Linked DNA regions of Homo sapiens. The protein of the gene in region 3 interacts with the protein of the main gene of each other region in a biochemical or structural test. Each region holds a gene or a part of one and is shown on either strand. Other genes may lie near its edges.

Region 1 (3,511 bases), on a different chromosome or scaffold from region 3:
GAAATGAGTCTGGGCCAGTGATTTAAACTCTAAGCCTCAGTTTCCCTATATGTTGTGTGCGGCTGACTCTTCTCTCCATACGGTGGGTGTGGCTGGGCCCAATCAAACTGCCCCCTCTTGGTTCCCTTTCCTTGTAGGCTGCATGCAGGGCATGGTGCCCTACCTGCCTGAGCTGATCCCGCACCTGATCCAGTGCCTGTCGGATAAGAAGGCCTTGGTCCGCTCCATCGCCTGCTGGACGCTGAGCCGCTATGCCCACTGGGTGGTCAGCCAGCCACCCGACATGCACCTCAAGCCCCTGATGACAGAGCTGCTCAAACGCATCCTGGATGGCAACAAGAGGGTACAGGAGGCGGCCTGCAGGTGACCCTGGACCCCTGATCCCACAGCCCCCACTCTCCCCCGGCCACCCTCTGGGAAGTGATGACACCTGTGACTGTTGATGTGGAACTGATTTATCGCGTATTCGTACTGGCTGATCCTGAGTTGCCCTCCCCAACTGCCCATGGCCCAGTGTCACCTGCCATGGTCCACTGAGCCCCCGCTTCATCCTCCCTCCCACCAGTGCTTTTGCCACCCTGGAGGAAGAGGCCTGCACGGAGCTGGTGCCCTACCTCAGCTACATCCTGGACACCCTTGTCTTTGCCTTTGGGAAATACCAGCACAAGAACCTGCTCATCCTCTATGACGCCATTGGCACCCTGGCCGACTCTGTAGGCCACCACCTCAACCAGCCGGTGAGACCCCAGAGCGGCTCCCGCCTCCCGATCCCCGTGCCCCTGGGCATCCAGTGACCTGGTGGCAACCCCGTGTTGCACGCCAGGGACGTGGCCGTGACCTCGACAGGCAGACAGACAGACCCGGCCCCGCCCTCGCCCTGCTCCCAGTCTAGTGGGGGAGAAAGACAGTTATGAGACAGCGTGGTAAGTGCTGTGCTTCGGGAACCAGGAGGTGGTAACCCAGGCTCCCGGGGGGTGGGGTGGGGCGGGCGGTGCTTGGACAGGTGAGAAGAATGAAGGCCTCGAGGTCTGGCCAGATGGCAGGCCTTTCAGGGTCCCATGAGCCACGGTGAGGCGCTCAGGCCTCATCACTCGGGCAACAGGTACCTGAGTCACAGTCTGCCACCCCGACCCAGGGAGCGCCCATTTCGTGCTCCCTCTCCAGGAATACATCCAGAAGCTGATGCCCCCACTGATCCAGAAGTGGAATGAGCTCAAGGACGAAGACAAGGACCTCTTCCCCCTGCTGGAGGTGAGTGGGCTCCTGCCCCTCACCCGAAACCCATCCTGCCCACCCTGCCTGAGTTCTCCCCACCTGCCTTCCTCCCTGCCAGTGTCTGTCATCGGTGGCCACCGCCCTGCAGAGTGGCTTCCTGCCTTACTGTGAGCCCGTCTACCAGCGCTGTGTCACCCTGGTGCAGAAGACACTGGCTCAGGCCATGGTGAGCAACCCTAGGCCCGTCACCTGTGCTTCTGCATTGGCCTGCCTCGGGCCTGCTCCACTTACCCGTGCCCCTGTCGGCATCTGTGTCTAGATGTACACCCAGCACCCTGAGCAGTATGAGGCTCCCGACAAGGACTTCATGATCGTAGCACTGGATCTGCTCAGCGGCCTGGCCGAGGGCCTGGGTGGTCACGTGGAGCAGCTGGTGGCCCGCAGCAACATCATGACATTGCTGTTCCAGTGCATGCAGGTGGGTGGGGACCCTGGACAGTGATGACACCCAGCAGCCTGCGTGGGCTGCCCCTGGTGGGGAGTCAGGGCCTGGTTGTGCCCAAAGGAAATCAGGGAAAAGGTGCTGTTCTAATTATTTTAAAGAGTAATCCTGGAGGCCGAGGCAGGATTGCTTGAGCCCAGGAGTTTGAGACCAGCCTGGGCAACATAGTGAAACCCCAGTTCTAAAATTAAAAAAAAAAATTTTTTTTAAAGCAAACAGTATTGAAAATAGAAAATGTGAGGCCAGGTGCTCACGCCTATAATCCAGCACTTTGGGAGGCTGTGGCAGGTGAATCACTTGAGGTCAGGAGTTTGAGAGCAGCTTGGCCAACACGGTGAAATCCTGTCTCTACGAAAAATACAAAAATTAGCCAGGCATGGTGGTAGGCGCCTGTAATCCCAGCTACTTGGAAGGCTGAGGCAGGAGAATTGCTTGAACCCAGGAGGCAGAGGTTGCAGTGAGCTGAGATCATGCCACTGCACTCCAGCCTGGGCAATAAACTGAGACTCTGTCTTCAAAAAAAAAGAAAGAAAAGAAAATAGAAAATGTGAAAGCCCAAGTCCCTGCCCCAGCACAGTTGGCTCTCTGTATCTGTGGGTTCTACATCCCAAGATTCAAGTAACCTCAGATTGAAAATACTCAGAGGAAAAATTACATCTGTACTGAACGCATACAGAAGTTTGTTCTTGTTATTATTCCCTAAACAATACAGTATAACAACTATTCCCATACTGTTGACATTGTATTAGATATAAGTGATTTAGAGATGATGCTAAGTGTACAGGAGAATGTGCATAGGTGCATATGCAAACACTATGCCCCCCCCACCGCCCCCCACCTGTTTTTTGAGACAGAGTCTCACTCTGTCACCCAGGCTGGAGTGCAATGGTGTGATCTCGGCTCACTGCAACCTTCACCTCCAGGGTTCAAGCAGTTCTCCTGCCTTAGCCTCTCAAGAAGCTGGGACTACAGGCGTGTCCCACTATGCCTGGCTAATTTTATTGTATTTTTAGTAAAGACAGGGTTTTGCCATGTTGGCCAGGCTGGTCTCAAACTCCTGACCTCAAGTGATCTGCCTGCCTCGGCCTGCCAAAGTGCTGGAGATTACAGGCATGAACCACTGCGCCTGGCCCTAACACTGTGCCACTTTATATCAAGGACTTGCACATCCGTGGATTTTTATATCTGCAGGGACCTGGAAAGAATCCCCCACGGACACTGAGGGATGACCGTTGGGGCACTGCCATCTCCCATTTGCAGATGTGGGCTGGAGGCTAGGGAGGTTAAGGAACAGCTAGGAGCTCTAGAACTGGAAAGTGGCAGAGGCTGGACATGCACCAGGGACTGTGCCCCCTGAGCTGTCCTGGTTAGAAGGAGGGGAGCCTAGCCACACTGATCTTACTTGAATCCCCAGGACTCGATGCCTGAGGTCCGGCAGAGCTCCTTTGCCCTCCTGGGAGACCTCACCAAAGCCTGCTTCATCCATGTCAAGCCCTGTATCGGTACGACACTCGCCTTGTCCCTAACCCATGACCCCAGCCCCGGCCTCAAGTGATGGAGAGCAATACCCGGGGATGACTGTGACCACATTGGGATGTATTCGTACTGTCTGATGGGGCCTGCTGGACTAGGTCCTGCAGCTTACCCTGGCTGGCCCTCCTTCTCAGCACCCCTGTTTCTCCCCACCAGCCGAGTTCATGCCCATTCTGGGCACCAACCTGAACCCAGAGTTCATCTCCGTCTGCAACAACGCCACCTGGGCCATTGGTGAAATCTGCATGCAGATGGGTGAGT
Region 2 (3,511 bases), on a different chromosome or scaffold from region 3:
ATATGTGCTTCTTTCCATCTACCACTTGACTCTGGTCCTCCCTATGCCAGATCAACTGCCTGTGACCCTTGACTGCTCCGCTTGGACAAGTGGTCTCTAAACTTACTTCCTGCTTTATCTTATGCTCGTTTTTAAACATTAGCCCATCCAGAAGCTGCAATATTCATTCATTAATTATTCATTTATTTAACAAGTGGTAATGAATGCCTGATACATGTCAGGCACTATTCTAGCTTCTTGGCATGCATTAATCAACAAAACTGACAAAGATCCCTGCTTTTATTTAGCTGACATTCTAGCAAGGAGAGACAGACAATAAAATGAGTAAACCATGGAGTATGTTAGAAGGCAACAACTGATACAAAAAAAAAAGAAGAGAAAAGCACAGCAGGATTAGGGGGATTGCATGTGGGGCTGGAGGTCAAGGTCACAGTGTAGGTTTTAGTCCTGAGTTATCAAATCTGACAGCCTTTTTCCATACCTTGGTCCACTGCTTTCACTGCTTCCCTGCCAAACTTCCCAAGACTCTGAGGCCAGGCTCCATCTCCCACAGCCCCATCTATTCAGCAGTTTGACTATGATGTCCCTTTCACACACCTGAACTTTGAGATTTCCAATTGCCCTGGCCTAAATGTCATAAACATCACACCCCTCTGCCTGGCTTTTGAAGCACTCTGCAATCTGACCTGGCCCATCCACTTCTGTGACACTTGGTTTTACCAGTTCGGGTGCATTTGCCCTTGTTGCCTTGAGAGTGACTTGCTCATGCATCTGGAATTTCTTCAGCAGATAAGCCCTGTGTTAGAATTGGGGACAGAGGGATGAATTAAATTCCATTTCTGTTCTTGAGATGGCCACGGCCCAGTGTGGAAAAAAGTTTTCCAGCAGTTACAAGACGTTATGGTAAGAGTTGTCTCAGAGTTGTCCTCTCCCTGCCCTGCAGCAGGCATGGCTTCCTAGACAGCACCTAGTTGGAGCCCTGAAGGATGACAGTCTGAAGTTTCTCAGTCCAGCAGGGAAAGGGCACTCAAGACAGAGGCTTTTCCCTCAGTTGCAGTCTGTGTCTCTCAAGGGCATTCTCTTCTCTTGCTTTGTATTCCCCATCTGCTTTACAGGCCATTTGCCAAGATTAGTTGTTAATAATAATGCTACACAAATCATCTGAAGCTCAGGGAGCAGTAAAATATGAAGCTTGACAGCTCTGGTGAGGCCAGTTTTTGGAAGACTTGTATGCTTTTGGGAGCAGTTTGGCCTTGATCCAGCTAGAAGTCAGATGAGCAAGGCCAAGATGGGAGAAGACATGCAAGGAAGACATTTGTCCTCTGCCCAAAAGAGTCCACGTGGTCTGCTCCTAGTGGGAGCTGAGAGCCACTAAAAGGGGCAGAGGGCCTGGGAGTGGACCACAGAGGCATGTGCCTTTTGCACTGGCATTGTGCAGAGACAGTAGATCACACAGCCAGCGTATGAGTGTGGGGACTAGAACTGATGCCTTTGCCACAACATGTGCTCCTGCCTTGGTGCTCTGCTGAGTGCAAGCAAAAGTGGGATCCATGAGGGGAAATGTTTAACAGCAGTTTGAGGTGGAGGAGGCCATGTGTTATAAGGGAAAGTTGATTGATCTGAAAGTCAGGAACCTTGGGTTCCTTGGCTCTTGAGCACATTATAGACATTCTTGAGTAGAACTAAGATCTTGAAAGCCCTTCTAGTTCTGAAAACTAGTAATATAGAGAAGAGGTAGGAGAAAGGCATGGCTAAGAACCCAGGCTCTGGAATCAGACTGCCTGAGCTCAGGTCCCCATTCCTCGATGTGACCTAAGGCATATTACCTATCTCTTCCGTTTCCTTATTTGTAAAATGGAAATAAAGTAATCTATTGTGATGTTGTTGTGTGGGCACAAATGAGGTAATACACTGTAATGACTTAGCACAATGTGATACAGAGTAATCACTCCTCAGATAGATATCTTAAAAAATAATTGGGTCTTGGGAGAGGACTGGCCTGTAGGGTCTGATTTGGGAGTTATTGTGGTGTGAAGCAATGTGATGTCTGAGTGTGATGAGCGCTGAGAGAGCATGATTTGGGGAAATCAGAACTTTGAGAGGTCAGTCAGTTCAGAAGTGTGGAGGAATAGGCAGAGCCGGTGAAAATAACGAGCCTAGGATCCAAGATTTTAAAAAGTAGGAAAATGTCCAGTTACTGAAGCCAGGGGAGGAGAGCCCCAGGGAAGGGATACTTGGACAGCGTTGTCCAAAATGTAGGCTGGCAAAGTGGGGATGGGGCAAAGGCCCTGGGTTTGATTGGGTGGAACTAGAGGTCCAGGGTAGAGCTGGGGTATCCTCTGTCTACCCTCAGTGGTATCTTGTGTCCATATGTTCTAGGGGTAGATGTGATTAATGGGGCCCTCGAGTCAGTCCTGTCCTCCAGCAGCCGTGAACAATGGACCCCAAGTCATGTCAGTGTGGCCCCTGCTACCCTCACCATCTTGCACCAGCAGGTAAAGAGCTGGGGTAGAAGTCGTGGCTGCGCCTTGCCATAGAGGGGAGACTGGGGGTGAGGGGAAGAGCTGCTAAGATGGATGTGGAACACAGTGTGGGGTTGGTGTTCCTTTTTAACTGAGTTCCCTCCATGCAGACAGAGGCAGTGCTGGGAGAGTGTCGGGTGCGTTTCCTCTCCTTCCTGGCCGTGGGCAGAGATGTCCACACGTTTGCATTCATCATGGCTGCCGGCCCAGCCTCCTTCTGCTGCCACATGTTCTGGTGCGAGCCCAATGCTGCCAGCCTCTCAGAGGCTGTGCAGGCTGCGTGCATGGTAAGCTACTAGTAGGGTGGTGTGGTGGTGGCGTGGCCCCATGGGAGGTAGGCTGGGGAGTGACTGCCCTGCTTGCCTCCGCAGCTTCGCTACCAGAAGTGTCTGGATGCCCGTTCCCAGGCCTCCACCTCCTGCCTCCCAGCACCCCCTGCTGAGTCTGTGGCACGGCGTGTAGGGTGGACTGTCCGCAGGGGTGTTCAGTCGCTGTGGGGCTCCCTGAAGCCCAAACGGCTGGGGGCCCATACCCCATGAAGAAGCCCCCACCTTCCCTCCACCTGCTTGTGTTGGGCCCCAGGGAACTAAAGGGTGTGGGTCAGGGAGGGGTCTAGAGGCTATTCCTAGGCCTCAGGCCTCCCAAATATGCCCCTCCCCAGTAGCTACGGTTCCCTGCCTAGGAGCTGGGGAGGGAGAGATCTAATCCCTTCAAGGAAGTGATAACACTGGAGTGGTAACAAGAGGAGCAGGAAGCAAGGCCAGCCCTGGTTCTCCATCCCCATGTGTTTCAGGTGGAACAGGAGGAACTGGTCCAGGCCAGGCCTCATCCTCCTGGACCCAGCAGGGGCAGAAGGAGGAAGGGACTGGTCCAGGCATGGGTCCCTTCCCCCTGCTCCATGGGCACCTCTGCTGTATTGATATCACTAATAAAGTCTGTCTGCACTGCTGTGTGCCTTCTTATGCCTGTACCACACCATCAACCCATTA
Region 3 (2,170 bases):
GCTACAAGAAGACCAAGGAAGCTGTTTTGCTCCTTAAGAAACTTAAAGCCTGGAATGATATCAAAAAGGTCCGTTCAATGAGCACATTTACAGTTTGGTACTCCTTGTTCACAGTTTGTCACTTTGAATTTCAGAAGATAAGGGCAGTATAGCTAATCCTTAATGTGTGAGAGAACAAGAACCTCAGAGCCCGATTACTTGGGTTTGAATCCTAACTGCTGTTTATGGCTCTGTGTAACCTTGGCAAGTTATTGTGCCCAGTTTAATCATCTGTAAAAAGGAATTAAAACTCTGAAGATCTATTGCAGAGATTCTATCTTAATCAGAATACTAAAACTGCTCACTTTGTAGGTCTATGCCTCTCAGCGAATGAGAGCTGGCAAAGGCAAAATGAGAAACCGTCGCCGTATCCAGCGCAGGGGCCCGTGCATCATCTATAATGAGGATAATGGTATCATCAAGGCCTTCAGAAACATCCCTGGTAATTAAACTGCTTACATATATTGACTAGGTATACTCTGCAAGTCTACTCAGCTTTTGTTATGATGAGATTCCACTTAAGGTCCGTGTTTCTGAAACAAATGATTTTGTGGAAGTTCTGATTTATGGCTGAAAGAGTTGCACCATTGATGGTTGAAACTTCATAATTAATAAGTTCTCAGGTACCTTTTATAGCTCTTAAGCCATAAAGATGATTTGTGTTTCTTTTGTTGGAATACAGGCTCCCTAATTTTTCTTTCCCTTTAAAAGGAATTACTCTGCTTAATGTAAGCAAGCTGAACATTTTGAAGCTTGCTCCTGGTGGGCATGTGGGACGTTTCTGCATTTGGACTGAAAGTGCTTTCCGGAAGTTAGATGAATTGTACGGCACTTGGCGTAAAGCCGCTTCCCTCAAGAGTAACTACAAGTAAGTATCTTTCATATACTAAGCACAGATGTTTATATTGTGGATATTAACATTCAGAATTGGCTTACATGTTTTCTAAATTTATTCCCATTTCCCCTTATGTGCAGCAACAGTATGCCAAAATGAGACTCACCTGGTCTATATTTTTGGTTTTTTGTTTTGTTTTTGAGACAGAGTTGTTCTGTCTCACCCACGCTGGAGTGTAGTGGTGTGATCGTGGCTTACTGCAGCCTCCGCCTCCCGGGTTCAAGCAGTTCTCCTGTCTCAGCCTCCCAAGTACCTGGGACTACAGGCTTGTGCCACCACACCCGGCTAATTGTAGAGTTGGGGTTTTACCATGTTGGCCAGGCTGGTCTGGAACTCCTGACCTTAGGTGATCCACCCGCCTCGGCCTCCCCAAGTGCTGGGATTATAGGGGTGAGCCACCACACCCGGCCTGGTCCATGTTTATGAGAAGTGATAGTGTAGTAGATATTTTGGAGAGCATAGTGGCTAAAAATAAAGCTTCAGTTGAGCTTCCTGTTCTTTGGTTGATTACTTTTACATGTACATGTCAATCTTTTCCCTTTCAGTCTTCCCATGCACAAGATGATTAATACAGATCTTAGCAGAATCTTGAAAAGCCCAGAGATCCAAAGAGCCCTTCGAGCACCACGGTAAAGTGATACTTAGAGTGTAATTCTCGCCCCAACCCTATACTATTGGTTGTTTCAAAAATTTGTATGTGTATAATGTTAAGTAAAATGTTGATACAGTATCTGCTTTTTTATAGCAAGAAGATCCATCGCAGAGTCCTAAAGAAGAACCCACTGAAAAACTTGAGAATCATGTTGAAGCTAAACCCATATGCAAAGACCATGCGCCGGAACACCATTCTTCGCCAGGCCAGGAATGTGAGTGGAGTTTTTGTTTGTTTGTTTGTTTTTGAGTCGGAATCTCGCTCTGTCACCCAGGCTGGAGTGCAATGGCGTGATCTCAGCTCACTGCAACCTCCACCTACCAAGTTCAAGCAGTTCTTCTGTCTCAGCCTCCCAAGTAGCTGGCACTACAGGCGCACGCCACCATGTCCGGCTAATTTTTGTATTTTCAGTAGAGACGGGGTGTCACTATATTGTTAGGCTGGTCTCAAACTCCTGACCTCAGGTGATTCACCTGCCTCGGCCTCCCAAAGTGCTGGGATTACAGGCGTGAGCCACCGTGCCCGGCTGGTTTGTTTTGTTTTTGTTTTTCTCTTCCTGATACATTAAGTTCTTACAGGGATTT
Region 4 (3,511 bases), on a different chromosome or scaffold from region 3:
CTGTGTGTGGCATAGGGCTGCTGCGGTTTCAGCACTCCCTCTTTAACACATCTTATTTCTAAATGTTCTCCTGCACATGATTTTTAAAAAATGATTATTAATGTAGAGTATAAAGTTGAGATTTTTTCATGTATTAGAAACATTGCAGACTTTTTCATTATTTGTTTTCTCATTATTTGAGTGCCTTGGCCATTTAAAAAAATCTACATGGATATAAAAACTATGTTCATTTATATATTTTCCTTTATTTGTCTTCTAAATAATATTGTCTTCTTGTTAAGTTGTCTCTTGTTTGGTTTGTGTAGCATCTCATATGGTATCAACCACGTTGTCTATAGTAGATGCCCAGTATTGTACCCAATTGCTTTGGGTTACTACCACCATTTTTAAAGTTTATAATTTGTGAAGGGTTGTCCTTATGTCTTAAGGAAAATCAGAGCTAATAACAGCTGCTAAGATTTATTTAGTAGGTACTAAGTGGTAAGTACTGCTCTAGGGGCTTTCGATGAATTGATTCAGTTAATTCTCACAATTATCCTGTAAGGTTGGTATTATTTTTATTAATTTTTATTTTTTTTGAGACGGAGTTTCGCTCTTGTTGCCCAGACTGGAGTGCAATGGCACGATTTCGGCTCACTGCAACCTCTGCCTCCCGGGTTCAAGCGATTCTCCTGCCTCAGTCTCCCGAGAAGCTGGGATTACAGGCACCCGCCACCACGCCCAGCTAATTTTGAATTTTTAGTAGAGACGGGGTTTCTCCATGTTGGTCAGGCTGGTCTTGAACTCCTGACCTCAGGTGATCTACCCGCCTCGGCCTCCCAAAGTGCTAGGATTACAGGCGTGAGCCACCGCGCCCGGCCAGGTGGGTATTATTATCATTTCTATTATGTCAACTGGAAAACAGAGGCACAAAGAGGCTTAGTCATTTGCTCAAGATTGTATACCTAATAAGGGATGGTGCTGGGTTGGAACTCAGAAGGTCTTGTTCTAAATTCCCTACTTTTCACCATTTTTTGCCAATAATTTATAGCTCTAAAATATTGATAGTTCTGTACCAATATATGAAATAAAGTGTTCTCTCCCCAGAACTTAGTAAATCTTCTATTTTGAAAGGCATGTATTTATTAATTCATTTAGCAGATGTTTTTTGAGTGCCTAACACATGCCTAGAACTCTGGGATCCCAAAGGAGCTTTGTGTTGTGGTGATGTTTGCCACAATGGGATTAAGGTTCAGACATAGTTGATTTCTCCTTTTAGCTCATAGTGGGGAGAATTTCTGGCAGATGACTGCATTTTTTTATGCTAATGTGTATCATCTCATAGTAATCTACTCTCCACAGTGTTAGAAAAATGTGGCTCTCATATTATCCAACCTCATTTAAATTTCAAATTATTCTCTTCCCTTTAGAATATTCTTACAAGCTCCGTTTTAATGGCACCAGCATCAGAAGATGAAGACAATGTTCTCAAAGCATTTACAGTACCTAAAAACAGGTCCCTGGCGAGCCCCTTGCAGGTAATTACTATTCCAACATTGGTATTTTAAAATTCATTCACTGAAAAACTGTCATCTTTGGTGGTGGTGGTGGTGGTGGTGATGGTAGTGCTGGTGGTCTGTTTTTCGTTTTCAACATTTTAGACATAGGGGAGTAATGCTTTTATACAATTCTTGATGTCTAGAAAAATCCAATAATTCCTTTTTGCTACTCATATGAGACATGCTAGAAATTTTTATCAGTGCAGATTCCCCAAAGCATGATGAAATGAAACATTTCTTACTGTGACTGAGACTAAGATGTATTACACGTGTGTCACTATCTTCTTCTGCCCTCAAATGTTTTATAAAAATATATCAATATAGTTTACTTTATGTTCCAAATTTTTTATTTTTTATGCTGTATCCCTAGGCAACCAAAGCTCAGAGACTGTTCCAATTTTAAATGAAGTCTGAAATTAGTCAGACAGAAAATAATTGCAATGTATTTGACTGTCAGAATAAGAAAGTCAACTGTCAATGTTGTGAGGCCGATCTGAAGTTGACCATCTGCTGTCAGGTTTTAATATCAAAAGAGATTTCCCTTGTAACCCTAAAGTGGGTGTGTGTTGATGAAATATAACCAATTCCAAATTAATCCTGAGCCAAATGTAAATAAGAATGCAAATTTTGCTTCCCTAAATTATTTAAAGCAGTTTCTGACATTAAATAGCCCAATACCCAGCCACCTGCAGAGCCCTCTCCTCCATCCCCCTGTGCCATGCAGAGGGAAACTTCATAACCCTAGAGGAAGTGAAGAGCCTGGATTCAGAAGCTGAAGGTCATATTTCTTGCTGTAAGTTAAATGGCACGATCATAGGACAGCAGCCTTTGAGTCTGCCCATTACCTTAAAGGGATTTCCCATTCTTGTGATAGTTTCTCCTTCCAAATTGTGAGAATCTGAAAACTTGCCCGGTAAGTATTTGTGATGCTTAGTTTTTCAGGGTTTTTTGTTGATGTTGCTTTGTTTTTTGAAACAGGGTCTTACCCGGTGGCCCAGGCTGGAGTGTAGTGGGGTGATCTCGGCTCACTGCAACCTCCGCCTCCCAGATTCAAGTGATTCTTATGCCTCAGCCTCCCAATTAGCTGGAATTACAGGTGTGAGCCACCGGCAACCCAGCCGTTTTTTTGTATTTTTGGATAGAGACAAGGTTTTGCCATGTTGGCCAGGCAGGTCTCGAATTCCTGGTTTCAAGTGATCTGCCCACCTCGGCCTCCTACAGTGCTGGGATTACAGGTGTGAGCTACCGCACCTAGCCAGTGCGTAGTATTATTGTAAAATAAGGATTGCAAGCACATTTTGTTTAATTAAATCAGATTGCTTCCTTCCTGGCCTCTCTCTGACAGCAATTGTTTTGGTAAAATGGCTGTGGACTGGAATGTGAGACAGGGAGTCAGTATTTATGGGGAATCTGGACAAGTTCCTGCGTCAGTGAGGCTGGAGTTGGCCCCGTGTGGAGAAGACTCAGAATACCACAAAGAGGCCAGACGCAGTGGCTCATGCCTGTAATCCCAGCACTTTGGGAGGCCAAGGCGGGTGGATAACTTGAGGTCAGGAGTTTGAGACCAGCCTGGCCAACACGGTGAAACCCCATCTCTACTAATCCCAGCTACTCGGGAGGCTGAGACAGGAGGATCGCTTGAACCCAGGAGGCAGAGGCTGCAGTGAGCCGAGATCATGACACTGCACTCCAGCCTGGGTGACAGAATGAGACTCCATCTCAAAAAAAAGAATATCACAAATAATTGGGAGATGAGGAAGAGAATGAACTCCACCCAGACATAAGAGGAACCCAGAAAGGGAGTTACAAAGATTTCAAGGCAAAGGGCAGCCATTTCAAAATTTTCCTGAAAGCTGTTCTTAGGTCCAGAAGAAAAGCTTTTGCTTTTTTTTTTTTTTTTAATTATTCCCACCTAAGTTACTTGGCTCTTGGTTTCTAGAGAACAGAATTCAACTACTGCTATTCGTGTTTTA

What was found. The genes of interacting proteins can lie anywhere in the genome.
Region 1: the proteins of RPL4 (region 3) and TNPO2 form a complex in vitro, tested with the Homo sapiens proteins (one study listed by BioGRID).
Region 2: the proteins of RPL4 (region 3) and APBB1 form a complex in vitro, tested with the Homo sapiens proteins (one study listed by BioGRID).
Region 4: the proteins of RPL4 (region 3) and MYB form a complex in vitro, tested with the Homo sapiens proteins (one study listed by BioGRID).

Annotation. Positions count from the first base shown.
Region 1 is NC_000019.10:12,703,422-12,706,932, reverse strand, and holds part of TNPO2 (transportin-2), read left to right. Parts: intron 1-137; coding exon 138-363; intron 364-414; exon of another isoform or gene 415-484; intron 485-565; coding exon 566-737; intron 738-1,164; coding exon 1,165-1,251; intron 1,252-1,333; coding exon 1,334-1,441; intron 1,442-1,534; coding exon 1,535-1,693; intron 1,694-3,131; coding exon 3,132-3,219; intron 3,220-3,261; exon of another isoform or gene 3,262-3,336; intron 3,337-3,406; coding exon 3,407-3,505; intron 3,506-3,511. UniProt on the Homo sapiens protein: Probably functions in nuclear protein import as nuclear transport receptor. Serves as receptor for nuclear localization signals (NLS) in cargo substrates.
Region 2 is NC_000011.10:6,395,084-6,398,594, reverse strand, and holds the end of APBB1 (amyloid beta precursor protein binding family B member 1), read left to right. Parts: intron 1-2,379; coding exon 2,380-2,495; intron 2,496-2,632; coding exon 2,633-2,809; intron 2,810-2,893; coding exon 2,894-3,061; 3' UTR 3,062-3,470; downstream 3,471-3,511. UniProt on the Homo sapiens protein: Transcription coregulator that can have both coactivator and corepressor functions. Adapter protein that forms a transcriptionally active complex with the gamma-secretase-derived amyloid precursor protein (APP) intracellular domain.
Region 3 is NC_000015.10:66,499,686-66,501,855, reverse strand, and holds part of RPL4 (large ribosomal subunit protein uL4), read left to right. Parts: coding exon 1-68; intron 69-351; coding exon 352-481; intron 482-537; exon of another isoform or gene 538-604; intron 605-750; coding exon 751-907; intron 908-1,479; coding exon 1,480-1,563; intron 1,564-1,679; coding exon 1,680-1,800; intron 1,801-2,170. UniProt on the Homo sapiens protein: Component of the large ribosomal subunit. The ribosome is a large ribonucleoprotein complex responsible for the synthesis of proteins in the cell.
Region 4 is NC_000006.12:135,201,808-135,205,318, forward strand, and holds part of MYB (transcriptional activator Myb), read left to right. Parts: intron 1-1,409; coding exon 1,410-1,517; intron 1,518-3,511. UniProt on the Homo sapiens protein: Transcriptional activator; DNA-binding protein that specifically recognize the sequence 5'-YAAC[GT]G-3'. Plays an important role in the control of proliferation and differentiation of hematopoietic progenitor cells.